Linked DNA regions of Homo sapiens: region 2 is linked to region 1. The links come from fine-mapping of genetic effects on gene expression. Tissue or cell type: skeletal muscle. Region 1 holds a variant in brackets; the other region holds the start of a gene. All regions are shown on one strand. Distances are from middle to middle.

Region 1 (8,101 bases):
TTTGGGAGGCTGAGGTGGGAGGATCGCTGGAGCCCAGGAGTTTGAGACCAGCCTGGGCAACATAAGGAGACCCCATCTCTTAAAAAAAAAAAAAAAAAAAAAAGTTAACCGGGCGAGGTGGCACACGTCTGTAGTCTCAGCTACTTGGGAGGCTGAGGTGGGAGGATTTCTTGAGCTTAGGAGTTTGAGGCTGCAGTGAGCCACGATCATGTCACTGCACTCCAGCCTGGGCAACAGAGAGAGACCCTATCTCTAAAAAAGAAAAAAAGTAGAAAAAGAAAAAAAAAAGTTATGATGTCCATGGCTCCTGCCACGAAAATGCTAAATTAAATCAGAATCTCTGCAAAGTGAGATGGAATCTGCACATCAGTATTTTTAAAAGCCCCCAGGTGATTTTCTAAGACACAGCCAGAAGCCAGTTCATCCACTCACTATTCCAGTAGTATAGATGGGCATGCTCTCAGCACCTTAGAGCAGTCTATGGCCCTTGGTCCCTCTTGAGGGTGGGGGCAGCTGCCTTTTTCATGGCTGCCTTCCCTGCTGCTCCGGCATACTGCAGTGCCCAGTGAAACCGGCTCAATGAATGAATGACAGAAGTCTGGATTTACACCTTTAGTGACCTTGTTCAGGCTTTAAGTACTCTTTCATATCATAAGCTGGCCTCACTTGAATTTTTATCTTCATTGTTGTCTCTCCCCTAAACCTGAGTTTTGTTTTGTTTTTGTCATTTTTATTATTTTTTGTTTTTTTAGACGGAGTCTCGCTCTGTCACCCAGGCTGGAGTGCAGTGGCGCAAACTCAGCTTGCTGCAACCTCTGCCTCCTGGGTTCAAGCGATTCTCCTGCCTCAGCCTCCCGAGTAGCTGGGATTACAGGCGCCTGCTACCACACGTGGCTAATTTTTGTATTTTTAGTAGAGACGGGATTTCACCTTGTTGGCCAGGCTGGTCTCGAACTGCTGATCTTAAGTGATCTGCCCACCTCAGCCTCCCAAAGTGCTGCGATTACAGGTGTGAGCCACCGCTCCCGGCCCTGTTATTTTGTTTTGAGGCAGGGTCTTGTTCTGTCACCCAGGCTGGAATGCAGTGGCATGACCACCACTCACTGCAGCCTCTACCTCCCAGACTGAAGCAATCATCCCGCCTCAGCCTCCTGAGGTGGCTGGACTATAGGCATTACAGGCATGCACCACCACACTGGGCTTTTTTTTTTTTTCTTTTTTTTAGACAGAATCTTACTCTGTCACCCAGGCTGGAGTGCCGTGGCATGATCTTGGCTCACGGCAACCTCTGCCTCCCGGGTTCAAGCAATTCTCCTGCCTCAGCCTCCTGAGTAGCTGGGATTACAGGCACGCGGCACCAGGCCTGGCTAATTTTTGTATTTTTAGTAGAGACGGGGTTTCATCATGTTGGCCAGGCTGGTTTCGAACTTCTGACCTCAAGTGATCCGCCCACCTGGGCCTCCCAAAGTGCTGGGATTACAGATGTGAGCCACCGGGCACCGCCTATCCATGTTCTTTTTTGTTGTTGGTGGTGGTATTTTTAATTAAAAATTTTTTAATTTGGTAAAATATACATAACATAAAAATTACTATTTTAGGCCGGGTGCAGTGGCTCACGCCTGTAATCCCAACACTTTGAGAGACCGAGGCGGGCAGATCACCTGAGGTCGGGAGTTTGAGACCATCCTGGCCAACATGGTGAAACTCCGTCTCTACTAAAAATACAAAAATTAGTCGGGTGTGGTGGCGCATGCCTGTAATCCCAGCTACTCTGGAGGCTGAGGCAGGAGAACTGCTTGAACCCGGGAGGCGGACTTGTGGTGAGCCGAGATCTCACTACTGTACTCCAGCCTGGGTGACAGAGTGAAACTCTCTAACAAACACAAACAAAAAAGCCCACAACATTTTAAGCACTTTTAAGCGTACAGTTCAGTAATTTAAAGTTCACGCACACTGTTGTGCAGCCGGTCTCCAGAACTGTTGTCATCTTGCGAAACTGAAGCTCCTTGCCCGTTAAACAACTCCCCAATTCCCGCTCTGTCCCTGCCCAGGGCGTAGGGATATATGTGTTTTGTTCAGGGGTGGAGCTGGGATTTGAACCCAGGCAGAATGTAGTATGAGAGCAAATGAAGGAAGGAAGGAAAGATCACACCTTGCGGCTGGGAGCACTGTGAGAAATCAGGGAACGTGGGGTCTGGAAAAGCTTTGGCCTACCCCGCCTCAAGCATCCACCCCTATTTTCCGCCTACAGCCTCGGCCACCTTCGAGGACTTCCAGATCCGCCCGCACGCCCTCACGGTGCACTCCTATCGGGCGCCTGCCTTCTGTGATCACTGCGGGGAGATGCTCTTCGGCCTAGTGCGCCAGGGCCTCAAGTGCGATGGTGAGAGCTAAAGGGTTGGGGGCGGGGCCTGGGGCGGGGCTCTGCACCGGGGGCGGAGCGTAATGGTCCTGGCACGGGGACAGCGTGGGGAGGAGGAGCGGGTCTCAGAGCTGGGGGCGCAGCCTAGGAAGTAATAATGGGAAGAAGGATGGGCCCAGAAGCAGAGCTTGGGGAAGGAGTGGTGGGGCTGGGCCGGGGCTCAGGTCTAGGGGCGGAGCCTAGGAGGTGGAGCTGGGAGGGACAAGTAGGGGCTTAAGAACAGAGCCTAGGGGAGCAGAAGGGTGGCGGGGGAAGAGGGTGGGGCCTCTATCAGTTAGGGATCAAGCAGAGAAACATCCAGGAGGAGATATATATTGAGATATTTATATGCAAGGAATCAGCTTACAGAATTGTGTGGGCTGGCTAGGCAACTCAAATCTGGCTGGGCACAGTGGGGGAGGCCAGTAATCCCAGCACTTTGGGAGGCAAAGGTAGGTGGATCACTTGAGGCCAGGAGTTCAAGACCAGCCTGGGCAACATAGCAAGACTCTGCCTGTACAAAAAATAATTAGCCAAGCATGGTGACAGACACTTGTGGTCCCAGCCACTTGGGAGGCTGAGGCGGGAGGATCACTTGAGCCTGGGAGCTCGACACTGTAGTGAGCCCTGATTGCACCACTGCACACCAGCCTGGGTGACAGAGCGAGACCCTGGCTCAAAAACAGGAAAAAGGCCGGACACGGTGGCTCATGCCTGTAATCCCAGCACTTTGGGAGGCCGAGGCGGGTGGATCACGAGGTCAGGAGATTGAGACCCTCCTGGCTAACATGGTGAAACCCCGTCTCTACTAAAAATACAAAAAATTAGCCGGACGTGGTGGCACACGCCTGTAGTCCCAGCTACTTGGGAGGCTGAGGCAGGAGAATTGCTTGGACCTGAGAGGAGGAGGTTGCAGTGAGCCGAGATTGTGCCACTGCACTCCAGCCTGGTGATAGAGTGAGACTCCTTCTGAAAACAGAAACAAAAACAAAACAATAAAAAGAAAAAGAAAAAAAAATCCATCCTATCAGGAAGGGCAAGTGGGAACTCAGGCACAAGCTGAAGCTGATGTCCACAGGTGGAATTTCTTCATCCGAAAAGTCTCTGATCTGCTTTTTAAAACATTCAGCTGATTGAATGAGACCCACCTAGAACAAGCAGGATCACCTCTCCCACTTACAGTCAGCTGATTATGGATTTTCATCACATCCAGAAAATACCTCCACTGGGCCGGGTGCGGTGGCTCACGCCTGTAATCCCAGCACTCTGGGAGGCCGAGGCAGGTGAATCACCTGAGGTCAGGAGTTCGAGACCAGCCTGTCCAACATGGTGAAACCCCGTCTCTACTAAAAATACAAAAAAGCCGGCGTGTTGGTGGACGCCTGTAATTCCAGCTACTCGGGAGGCTCAGTCAGGAGAATCTCTTGAACCCGGGAGGCAGAGCTTGCAGTGAGCTGAGATTGCACCATTACACTCCAGCCTGGGCAACAAGAGCAAAACTCTGTCTCAAAAAAATGAAAAGAAAAGAAAATACCTCCATGGGGCCTTCTCTTCCCAGTTCTTCCTGGAGTCGGGGAAAAGCTGGGTTGAGAAGGTGAAAAGAAAAAACAAACCTTGACTGGGCACAGTGGTTCACACCTGTAACCCCAGCACTTTGGAGGCTGAGGCAGGCGGATCATGAGGTCAAGAGATTGAGACCACCCTGGCCAACATGGTGAAACCCCATCTCTCCTAAAAATACAAAAATTAGCGGGCGTGGTGGCATGTGCCTATAGTCCCAGCTACTTGGGAGGCTGAGGTAGGAGAATCACTTGAACCCAGGAGACAGAGGTTGCAGTGAGCCGAGATCGTGCCACTGCACTCCAGCCTGGCAACAGAGCGAGACTCCGTCTCAAAAAAAAAAAAAAAAAAAAAAACCACAAACAAACCAACCTTCATGGCAACATCTAGATTAGTGTCTGAATAACTGTGGATCTCGCCTAGCCAAGCTGACACATTAACATGACTATCAGGGTCCATCTCTTGTCAACCTGGCACCTGTCTTAGTTTGTCAGGGCTGCCTTAACAAAATACCACCCTGCGTGGCTTAAATGACAGACATTTACTTCTCAAAATCCCTGGAATTGTGAGAGGCTGGAAAGACAAAGATCCAGATTCTGGCAGGGTTCTGTTTCTGGTGTAGCCTGCTTTCCTGCCTTGCAGAGGGCCATCATTTCACTGTGCGCTCACATGGGACACGGAGAGAGAGATCCCTGGTATCTCTTCCCTTTATAAGGAAGGCCAGGCATGGTGGCTCATGCCTATAATCCCAGCACTTTGGGAGGATGGTGGATCGCTTGAGTCCAGGAGTTCGAGACCAGCATGGGC[A/G]ACATGGTGAAACCCCGTCTCTAAAAAATACAACAAATTGGCCAGGCATGGTGGTGCATACCTCTAGTCCTAGCTACTCAAGAGGCTGAGGTGGGAGGATCACCTGGGCCTGGGAGGTTGAGGCTGCGGTGAGCCGTGATCATGCCACTGCACTCCAGCCTAGGTGACAGAACACGATTGTCTCAGAAAAAAAAAAAAAAAAAAAAAAAAAAAGGTCACCAGTCCCATTGGATTACAGCCACACTCTTTCGGCCTCAATTAACCTTAATTACCTCCATAAAGGCACCGTCTCCAGATATAGTTGCATTGGAGGTTAGGGTTTCAACATAAGAATTTTGGGGGAGACACAGACATTTAGTCCATAACAGCACCCATACATATCTCCTTAAATCATAGTTTAAAAATATACAGGTTTTCTTTTTTGGAGACAGCGTCTCAGTCTGTCACCCAGGCTGGAGTGCAGTGGCGCGATCTCAGCTCACCACAACCTCCACTTCCCAGGCTCAAGCGATTCTCCTGCCTCAGCCTACCGAGTAGCTGGGATTACAGGCACACACCATTACTGCCCGGCTAATTTTTGTATTTCTAGTAGAGACGGGGTTTCACCACGTTGGCCAGGCTGGTCTTGAACTCCTGACCTCAAATGATCCACCCGCCTTGCCCTCCCACAGTGCTGGGATTACAGGCATGAGCCACCGCGCCTGTCCAAAACATACAGTTCTTTAAGCCAAGATGTCTCAAGGTTCAGCCCAAGTGTCAAGATCTATATAGGTCCTCTGTCCCTGTTATTCATGCTTCTGAGTGAGAATGTTGAAATCGGGGCTCTGCCTACAGATGAAGGCCATGTACCTGCATTGGCTATGAGGACAGATGACAGGTGAGGACCATCCATTCTGTGATGAGACCCTGTGGCTCCATTGTTTTGTGTGTGTGAGACAGAGTCTTGCTCCGTCACCCAGGATGGAGTGCAGTGGCGTGGTCTTGGCTCACTGCAACCTCTACCTCCTGGGTTCAAGCAATTCTCCTGCTTCAGCCTCCCAAATAGCTGGGATTACAGGTGCGCACCACCACTCCTGGCTAATTTTTGTATTTTTAGTAGACGGGGTTTCACCATGTTGGCCAGGCTGGTTTCAAGTAATCCACCCTCCTCAGCCTCCCCAAGTGCTGGGATTACAGACATGAGCCACTGCGCTGGGCCCCATGCGCCTCCATTTTTGTATGGTGTGCCCTGCAATTAGAGCCATATTCTTGGATGTTCCATTGGGTATTAGGTCTGAGACAGCATCTCTAGCTCCGTGGGTGCCACGCTTGTACAGAAATCCTGATTCTGGGCCAGGCACGGTGGCTCACACCTGTAATCCCAGCACTTTGGGAGGCCAAGGCGGGCGGATCATGAGGTCAGGAGTTAGAGACCAGCCTGGCCAACATGGTGAAACCCTGTCTCTACTAAAACTAGAAAAATTAGCTGGGTGTGGTGGCGGGTACCTATAATCCCAGCTACTCGGGAGGCTGAGGCAGGAGAATCATTTGAACCTGAGGGGGTGGAGGTTGCAGTGAGCCGAGATCATACCATTGCACTCCAGCCTGGGTGACAGGGTGAGACTCCGTCTCAAAAAAAAAAAAAAAAAAGAAATCCAGTTTCTCCAATATCCTGTGTTCCAGATCATCATGCAGTCCAAAGTATACTTGTATTATTTAAGGACTCTAGGCCTGCAGATACTGATTCAGTGCATTAAAAGCTCTTATAAATATTGCCATCGTCCACACACCATATCCAACTCTTGAGGTCTCAGCATATGCAGTCTTTGTCATGATACAGCCCTGGTGTCATCAAGTCCTAATGGGTTATCAGCACAGACTTCACTGGTGCAGCATCACAGATGATGGTCCCAGTTCCTATGGTGGCAAGAGAACCCCAAATGACTACATTCCGACAGGAGTTTAACTCTATCCTGAGACTCATTCTGAGAGTTATAGATAAGATTCTGAAATTCTGGAAGGCACATGAGTGATTCAAGGCCAACACTGGGAAATGGTTCCTGTGTGCAAAGACCATTTGCCCTGCTGAAGCTCTTCTTGCAGGGCCAACACCGTTCTCCAAGCTTGCCTCCGTGATTACAGCATGCAGCCAAGACAGTGCCTACAATGAGGAGGTGTGGAACTGGAAAGCCTGGAGCAGGCGGGTACCAGAAGGGCTCCCAAAGGCTGGAGGAACATTCTTCACTCCAGAATAGAAAGCGATCCTGGAATCGTTTGGAATCACTGGAGATGTATTAGAGCACACATACAGAACGTCCAGTGGGAAACAGGGAGTTGAGCTGATTTCTCCATGGATGAGGATTTTAAAAGATAAAATAGGCAGGGCACAGTGGCTCATGCCTGTAATCCCAACACTTTGGGAGGCTGAGGTGGGAGGATCACTTGAGCCCAGGAGTTCAAGACCAGCCTGGGCAATGTAGCGAGACCCCATCTCTACAAAAAAATAAAAATAAAAAAATTATCTGGGCATGGTAGTGTATGTCTGTGGTTCTGGCTACTCAGGAGGCTGAGGCAGGAGGATTACTTGAGCCCAGGAGTTGAAGGCTGCAGTGAGCTATGATTGTGCCATTGTGCTTCAGCCGGGGGTACAGGGAGATCCTGTCTCTACAAAATAAAATAAGACAATAAGAAGTCATACTTCTGCCTAGTATGGTACAATGGACCTGAGTACAACTGAGAACTCTTTTTTTTTTTTTGAAACTGAGTCTCGCTGTATTGCCCAGGCTGGAGTGCAGTGGCGTGATCTCAGCTCACTACAACCTCTGCCTCCTGGGTTCAAGTGATTCTCCTGCCTCAGCCTCCGGAGTAGCTGGGATTACAGGCGTGTGCCACTACACCCGGCTAAGTTTTGTATTTTTAGTAGAGATGGGGTTTTGCCATGTTGGCCAGTGTGGTCTCAAACTCCTGACCTCAAGTGATCCGCCGGCCTTGGCCTCCCAAAGTGCTGGGATTACAGGCGTGAGCCACCATGCGTGGCCCACACTACTAAGATTTAATCACACTACTTAGGGATTGCCTGGATTCCAGGTCTACAGAAAAGAGAAAGTGGGGTACAGGGGGTGAGCAGACCTGGAGGGATAGTGACCTTAGGGGTGGGGGTGAGGAGAGGCATTTTCTTTTGGAAAGTTGGGGTTGGGGAAAGAGGGGGAACCAAAGGGGCCTCAGAAAAAGGAAGGTCAGGGTTAGAAGGGGGAACAGGTGTCTCTAGGGAGATGGACAGGAGTTTTGGGGAGGACTAGAAGGAGGTGCTTACCATAGAGGACTGGGGCTGGGTCAGAGCTTTGGCGGGGACTT
Region 2 (8,085 bases), 36 kb before region 1:
GTTGATCCAAGAAGCTGGCTACAGAGTCGTACTTTAAACCAGTAAACTTTACCTTCTCTCTTGGGTTCTTTCTGAAGCCCCAACTCTCAGCCCATCTTTAGTGAGCCTTCCCCAGCCCTAACCTGACAGGGGCTTTCAAAGCTTGGCTATGGCACATTAATAAATTAATTCAACTCAGTAACTCAACAAACTCAAGTATTCTTTGTGGTGGACCCCATGTTTTGAGGATACAGAATGAACGAGGTACTCATTAGGTCAGCCCTCCAGAAGACAGAAAGAAGACTGACAGGGCCACGTGTGGTGGCTCACACCTGTAATCTCAGTACTTTGGGAGGCCCAGGCGGTCAGATCACCTGAGGTCAGGAGTTAGAGACCAGCGTGGGCAATATGGTGAAACCCCCTCTCTACCAAAAAATACAAAGATTAGCTGGGCATGGTGGTGCGCACCTGTAATCCCAGCTATTGGGGAGGCTGAGGTGTGAGAATCACTTGAACTCAGGAGGCGGAGGTTGCAGTGAGCCGAGATTGCTCCACTTCACTCTAGCCTGGGTGAGACCCTGTCTCAAAACAAACAAACAAACAAAAAAAAGACGGACAAAAGCCATGCAACTTACAGACAGGGCAGGAAACCAGCAGGGGGCGCAAGAGTAGAAACAGGGGGCTTGCCTTAGAAATGGTAGTCAGAGGGGACAGTTACTCTGAGAGTTTACTTGTCTCTCCAGTCCCCACAAAACAAGGTAAATGAATCCAAATTCTCTTCAGGCCTTGGGTTCACTGGGTCTGAGTTGCGATTTGGCCTGAGCCTCAGTCCCTGCACCTGTGGAATGGGAATGTGACGGTTAGAAAAAAATGAGAGGGCTGGGCGCGGTGGCTCACGCCTGTAATTCTAGCATTCTGGGAGGCCGAGGCGGGCGGATCACGAGGTCAGAAGTTCGAGACCAGCCTGCCAACAAGGTGAAACCCCATCTCTATTAAAAATACAAAAAATTAGCCGGGCGTGGTGGCAGGTGCCTGTAATCCCAGCTACTCGGGAGGCTGAGGCAGGAGAATCGCTTGAACCAGGGAGGTGGAGGTTGCAGTGAGCCATGACCGCGCCACTGCATTTCAGCCCGGGCAACAGAGCGACACTCCGTCTCAAAAAAGAAAGAAAGAAAAAGAAAAAAATGAGAGACATGGGAAAGCCTTAAGGAATGAGGAAGGGCAGTTTCCATGAGAGTGTAGGTGACACTGAGGGACTTCTTACCTCCTAGGTTGTAGGCTGGGGGAGTTCCAGGAGGGCAGTTCCAGCCCAGCTGAGCTGCGCTCCTGAGAGGAGGAGAACCAGAAAATCCCAAATCAGCCATTTCCGTACAATAGAGCACAATTTCATCTTATCCACAAAAGTGGCAAGAGAAAGGTCAGGGAATCCTTTCTCTTGAAGTCCTATAATCTCGGGCACCACCTGGGGTGTCTCAGGAGTGGGGTGGGGTGAATGGGAGGGATGTCAGTTATTATAGCAACCTATAACCATCCCTCTAGCATGAATGTGTCCAGAAAAGGTAGGGCTAGAAGCCAACAGAAGCTGTTACCATGACAACCCCTTCCATAGACACACTCTACCTCTGAGAGACATTCTTAAAACATCCCCTGGCCGGGCGTGATGGCTCACACCTGTAATCCCAGCACTTTGGGAGGCCGAGGCGGGCCTGAGGCAGATCACCTGAGGTCGGGAGTTCAAGACCAGCGTGACCAACATGGAGAAACCCCGTCTTTACTAAAAATAAAAAAAAAATTAGCCGGGCGTGGTGGCGCATGCCTGTAATCCCAGCTACTTGGGAGGGTGAGGCAGGAGAACGGCTTGAACCGGGGAGGCGGAGGTTGTGGTGAGCCGAGATTGGGCCATTGCATCCCAGCCTGGGCAACAAGAGTTACACTCTGTCTCAAAAAAAAAAAAAAAAAAAAAAATCCCCTCCTTTGTTGGGCTTGGTTCCTAGGGTCACTCGAAGGGGGCTGCTCTATTATCATAGTAACCAGGCCTTGAACTTGCCTGTTTCTCACCTTCCGGAGGAAGGTCCAGGCCCTGTAACCATAGCAACTGCCCCTCAGCAGAGCATCTCCTCTAAATAAAAACACCTGGTTAGTTTGGTGCATGGGCCTCCCACGATGGGAAGGGGAAGACGGTTACCATGGTAATGCCAACTAGGTGGCTATGGGGGAGGGGCTGGGGAAGAGGTGCTTCTCTTAGAGATCAGTGTCCTTGGGGCTGGGGTCCTTTCTACCTGAATGCTAGGTGGGGGGGAGGTTGCCATAGTAATCAATGAGGATAGGAGCAGAAGGACCACCACGGACACTTAGGTTACCTTAGCAACCTTCTCCTGGTGCAGAGTCCTAAGAGGTTTGGGGCTCCATAACCACAAAGGTGGAAGCGAGGGGAAGGCTGCTCCCCACCACCTCGCCCCCACCGCTGGGGAAGGGTTACCATGACAACCAACCTGGCCGGCAATCAGAGAGGATGGGGCCACTGCTGGTCGCCCTTTCTCTCAGAGTAAAAGTAATTGTCCAGGAGAGTGGTGTTTGGGTGTGGAAGGGGTAAGGCTCTTTCTCTGGGGCGAAGTGGGAGGAGGGGGGCAGAAAGCGGCCCCTTCCTCAGTCTCACTCCAGCGAGGGGGACCGTCGCGCGGGGCCTGGGTCTCCCTCGCCCTCCTCGGGGCGCGATCTCCCACCCGCCGGCCCCCGCGCGGGCACGCTACCCTTCGGTGTAGACCCGGGTGGGCGAGGCTCGCGCTCGCCGCCGGCCCCCCTTCCTACTGTCCCCCGCCGGGCGCGCGCGCGGTGGTTGCGGCGGGGGAGGGGGGGGGGTGTTGGCGCGGCCGCGCAGGCGCGCGAGGCACAGCGGGCGCGCAGGCCGGCCCCGGGGCCTCCATGATGGAGGAGCGAGCGGCCGCCGCGGTCGCCGCCGCCGCCTCCTCCTGCCGTCCGCTCGGCTCAGGCGCGGGCCCTGGCCCCACTGGGGCGGCCCCGGTCTCCGCCCCTGCCCCCGGGCCGGGCCCGGCAGGTAAGGGAGGCGGCGGCGGAGGCAGCCCCGGGCCCACGGCGGGCCCGGAGCCCCTGAGCCTGCCGGGGATCCTGCACTTTATCCAGCACGAGTGGGCGCGCTTCGAAGCCGAGAAAGCCCGCTGGGAGGCCGAGCGCGCCGAGTTACAGGTGAGCGCTGTCCCGGGACCCCCGACCCCCAACCCGGCCCGGCCCGGCCCGGCCTCACCCGCTGCCGCCGCCGCCGCCATCTTGGAGCAATGGCCGCCGGGACGGCCGGCGGGGGGGCGGGAGGGGACCGCGACGGTCCCGGAGGGCGAGTGAGGGGCCGTCCGAGGGGTGTCCTGAGGGCACTCCGGGGTGGGACGGGACCGGGACGGCCCGAGGTGGGAGTGGAGGGACCGGGGGTGGGAGGGATCACCGGGACCGGCCGAGAGAAAGGGGCGGAGGGACCACAACCAGCTGGGAGTGGGACTGGGACTGGGACTGAGCACGCTGGCCGCGGGGCTCCTGAGAGAGGCGACTCGAGCCCTGGAGGGGAGGCTAAGAGAACTCGGGAAAGGGTGTGGAGAGGAGCTGGAGGGGTCTGGGAGACCTGAGTGGTCTCCTGTGGGAGTAAGCAGAAGCTTGCCGGGCGCCGAGGGACTCCCGACCCCGACCCCGACCATGGCCCTAGCCAGGTGCAGGTTGGAGGTGGGAGCGTCCAAGGGGGGAACTTGGGACCCGCTGGGAAAGAGCGGGTCCAGATGGGGAACCGGGAGGATTTAGGGAGAGGAAGTCGGGAACCTGGGATCGGTGTGTTTCGGGGCGACTGGACGGTGGGCACGGAAGGAGGGCTGTGTAAGGACCCGAGGGGTGGGAGGAGGGTTTCAAGGGGTCCAGGATGAAGGTGTGTGCCTTCCCCTCTGAGGAGAAACTTTGGGGATCCCGGGCATGTGTGGCTGCACAGTGCAGGGAAGGGTTCTTTGGAGTGGAAGTGTGGACAGAGCAGGGAATGTACCCTAGGAGCCTGGATGGGAGAGCTTAAGAGTGGAAGTTCCACTTTGGGGGTGTGCAGGAGTGGGCGCGATGGCACTGAGATGGCACGTGTGTTGTAGGATGTAGGTAGAGAGCCCTGAACTGGAGTGTGGGGTGTTGGGCATGTCCAGTATGGAGGTGAGGGTCCTGGGATGGTGCCAATGAGGACGAGTTAGGGGTTACCCTGGGGTGATGCTTTAGGGGGGAGAATTTTGTAGAGCCCGAAGGCAACATGAGGAGGCATCTCGGAACGGGGGTAGACTGGGGTTGGGGGGAAGGGGATATGTTTGTGGAAGTCTTGGGAAAAGACCCCGTGGTTTTTGGGGTAGCTTGGGACAGGGATGTTGAATGGAAGAGTCTGAGGAGTTGGGCTAGGGTTTGTGACCTCGTGGAGCGTCAGGTCCATTGGCAGTGACTGGAGGACCATGGAGATGTCCGGATTTGAAGGGATCAGGAATGGCCCGCTGGAAGTCTGAAGATTCTTGGACTGGGTTATTATTAGCAGAAATTGTCATTACCTGCTTGTAGCAGCCCACCTTTCCCCTTCCGATTTGCCGTTTGCTATCTAGTAGGAAGCTGGTACCCAAATAAATAGCTGATGAGAATTGTGTCGGTAGGGATGGGGTGCGGTGGCTCACGCCTGTAATCCCAACACTTGGGGAGGTTGAGGTGGGAGAATCCCTTGAGCCCAGGAGTTCGAGGCCAGCCTGGCCAACATAGCAAGACCTCATCTCTACAAAAAAGTACAAAAATTAGCCGGGTGTGGTGACATGCGCCTGTAGTCCCAGCTACTCAGGAGGCTGAGGTGGGAGGATTGCTTAAACCCCGGAGGTTGAGGCTGCGGTGAGCCATGATTGCACCACTGCACTCCAGCCTGGGCAAAAGAGTGAGATCCTGTCTCAAAAAAAAGCATTTTGTTCATAGGATGAGTAAAGACCCTCCAGTAACTCTCCCCCTGCCCTCACTTGTGGTGGCTGAGGCTTGGGGCTGGGATGGGAGCAGAATCCTTATGTAACTGCTCTCACTTCTGTCCCACTCTCTACTTCCGAAGCTCTTTCCCAGCATACATCTCATCAGATCTTCACAATGCCCTGTGATGTAGGCAGAGGCAGTGTCATTACCTCACTCAGCAATAACGGTACCAGCTGCAATTTAGTGAGCACATACCATGTCTGGGGCGCTGTATCAAGTACTGTAGATACGAGCTGTCATTTAATTCTTGCAGCATTCTGGGAGGATAAAGGATATTCCCCCTACCTTTAAAAAAAATCAGGAGAGGAAATGGAGGTTTTGAGAGGGTGATTTATCTAGGATCCCAGCAGATGAGCAGAAGGGCTGGTCTGTGGTGGACCTTTTGTTTATTTATTTATTTATTTATTTATTTTTATTTTTATTTTTTTGAGACAGAGTCTCACTCTGTCACCCAGGGTGGAGTGCAGTGGCATGATCTTGGCTCATTGCAACCACTGCCTCCCAGGTTCAAGCGATTCTCCTGCCTCAGCCTCGCAAGTAGCTGGGATTACAGGTGTGCACCACCACCACGCCTGGCTGATTTTTGTATTTTTAGTAGAGATGGGGTTTTGCCACGTTGGTCAGGCTGGTTTCGAACTCCTGGCCTCAAGAGATCCACCTGCCTCGGCCTCCCAAAGTGCTGGGATTACAGGCATAAGCCACCATGCCCGACCGTCGGTAGACTTTTAAGCCCATGTTCTGTACCTCTCTGCTACCCAGTACAGTTGAGAAAATTGGTTCAGGCAAGCATAGTGGCCTCCCCAGGGTCACCCAAGCAGTCATAGCAGAGCTTGGACTGAATCTTGGCCTCTGGGACTTTGCACCAGTGCACCGCACAGCACCCACCACACCATCTTCTCATCCTGGAGGCTGATGAGAGAAAAGATGTTTATCCCCTCACTTACTGACCCTTCTTGGAGTTTGAGAGGAACTTGTGTCTGGCATGGTACCAGCACTGTCACTTTGTACTTTTGTTTTCTTTTATTCTGTTAAGTTAGTAAAAATTCAGACATCTCAGAGGGGTGTGTGTGTGTGTGTGAGTGTGTGTATACACATATATATGTAAGTGAAAAAGGAAAGTTCCTTCTCTTCGTCCCTTTCCTGCTCTTCTCTCCTGAGAGAGAAGAGTTATTGTGCTTATGTAATAGATGAACTACTGCTGTATGTATCATTTTGTGACATAATAATCTGTTTTGGTTTTCCTTTCATATCAGCACAGAGAACTCTTTCTTTTTGATAGCTGCATAGCGTCCCACGGGATGTTTGCACCATAGCTGATTGAGTTTGACCCTGGTTGGTGGACTTTTAGATTTTTTCTAGTTTTTCCCCCATCAGACATGGCTGCAGTGAGAACCCCTTATTCCTGTGCAAGAATGAAGCAGAACAGATGAGTGGAATAGTAGAATGGATGTGTTTATGAAACAGTGATTGGGCTGGGCGCGGTGGCTCGCGCCTGTAATCCCAGCACTTTGAGAGGCCAAGGCAGGTGGATCACAAGGTCTGGAGTTCAAGACCAGCGTGGCCGATATGGTGAAACCCCACCTCTACTAAAAATACAGAAATTAGTCGGGCGTGGTGGTGGGCGCCTGTAGTCCCAGCTACTCGGGAGGCTGAGGCAGGAGAATCGCTTGTACCCGGGAAGCAGAAGTTGCAGTGAGCCGAGATCACACCACTGCACTCCAGCCTTGGTGACAGAGCGAGATGCCATCTCAAAAAAAATAAAAATAAAAAAAGAAACAGTGAATGACTCTGCCACATTGACCCACCAGTTTACTCTCCCATCAGCGGCACCTCTTTTACACACCTTTACTTGAACACTTAGTGCTAACAGACGGTGTGACTTCCCCTGTGAGATCCCTTAAGAGCTAGGCAGTGTCAGATTTTCCTGATGGACTCTGAATAACTTTTCTCTGAAGAGCTTAATACAGCTGCTCCTAGCAGAAGACCTGCCGTGCGACCCTGCTTGGTACCTGTGTGTTGAATGGCAGAGAAGGCAGCCCCCAGGGAGGTCCTGCCAGTAGTCACCATAAGTTTGGAGCAGGAAGGTGGCGGAGCTGCAGTCTGATAATGAGCAGGCATTTGCTAGGTGGGGGATTCTGAGAAGTAAGTAACGTGGTTTCTGCCCATCCGAAACTTCCAGGCTGGCAGAGGAAGCTTGTTTGTGCAGGGGACCGCAGAGCTGTAGATGTTCATGCACAGTTGATTGTGTGGCTCTGCCCCTGTTCTGTGGCAACTCTGAGAGGGGAAGCTTTTTGAGGATGGGAGGGACCTTTTAATGAGGGATCTGAACTGGAGATTTGTATAGGAGCAGCGACAGGGACCTGCAGTGAGTGCGGTGCCAGCAGAGAATGTGCGGAGCTGCCCCTGCCCACTTCAGCTTCCTGGGGGCCCATTCCTGCCAGCAGCTGCTGAAGCTTGGGAAGGAGGCCCTTAGGAGATGCAGGGCTAGATGGCACGAAACGGGGACTCTTCCCAGCTAGCTGGGACAGGAAGCAGCGAATTCAGAGAGGCATCAGCTCCTGGGAGGACTGAATTGCTGGGACTCCTCCGAAGCCTTTAGATGTCGCCTTGCTGGGAATAGCTGGAGGGGCGGAGAGGCAGTAGCTGCCAGGTATCAGAAGGTTTTGGGAGCGCATGCTCTGCGGCTCTGGCTAGAGGGAGTGGCAGTGGGTGGATATGGTGAGCGGCACTTCCAGATCCCCGACCGACCCTCAGGCCTACCTTGGCCCTCGCAGACCAGACAGCCCGTGGGGGCTGCTGGCGTTTGCAGCGAGGGAGAGACTGGCCACTGACGCTTCCCGTTTTTGGTGGGTTTCCACCTCCCTGAGATGCTCCAACCATGTCTTTCTGGTTCTCTTTCCAGAGGCACTGGGAAAGGGACAGCAAAGCAGAGTGGGCAGCTGAGACCCTCACATCCTCATTAGGAGGAGGGAGACCACAGCTCGATGAGGCAGCAGAGGGATGAAGGGGGAACCCAGCCAGTGACAGGTCTGGTTGGGATGCCCAACTCCACCTCCTGCCCCCACAGATAGACCACTACTGTGT

Evidence for each region. PIP is the estimated chance that this variant, and not a neighbour inherited with it, causes the effect.
Region 2: FKRP starts here. The variant in region 1 is fine-mapped to the expression of FKRP in skeletal muscle (FUSION, PIP 0.95).

The regions. Positions count from the first base shown.
Region 1 is chr19:46,705,189-46,713,289 of GRCh38, reverse strand. It overlaps PRKD2 (protein kinase D2), which reads left to right. Exons shown (of 18, transcript NM_016457.5): 3 at 2,252-2,383. It overlaps MIR320E (microRNA 320e), which reads left to right and starts at 3,936; the gene lies at 3,936-4,008. RefSeq lists an enhancer at 2,623-3,441. The variant A/G (reference allele first, on the strand shown) is at 4,769.
Region 2 is chr19:46,741,247-46,749,331 of GRCh38, reverse strand. FKRP (fukutin related protein) reads right to left here and starts at 3,275. Exons shown (of 4, transcript NM_024301.5): 1 at 3,242-3,275; 2 at 1,244-1,305; 3 at 667-817. STRN4 (striatin 4) reads left to right here and starts at 2,882. Exons shown (of 18, transcript NM_013403.3): 1 at 2,882-3,183. The coding sequence starts at 2,902. RefSeq lists silencers at 2,457-2,506, 2,547-2,646, 2,687-2,836, 2,847-2,896, 3,107-3,336.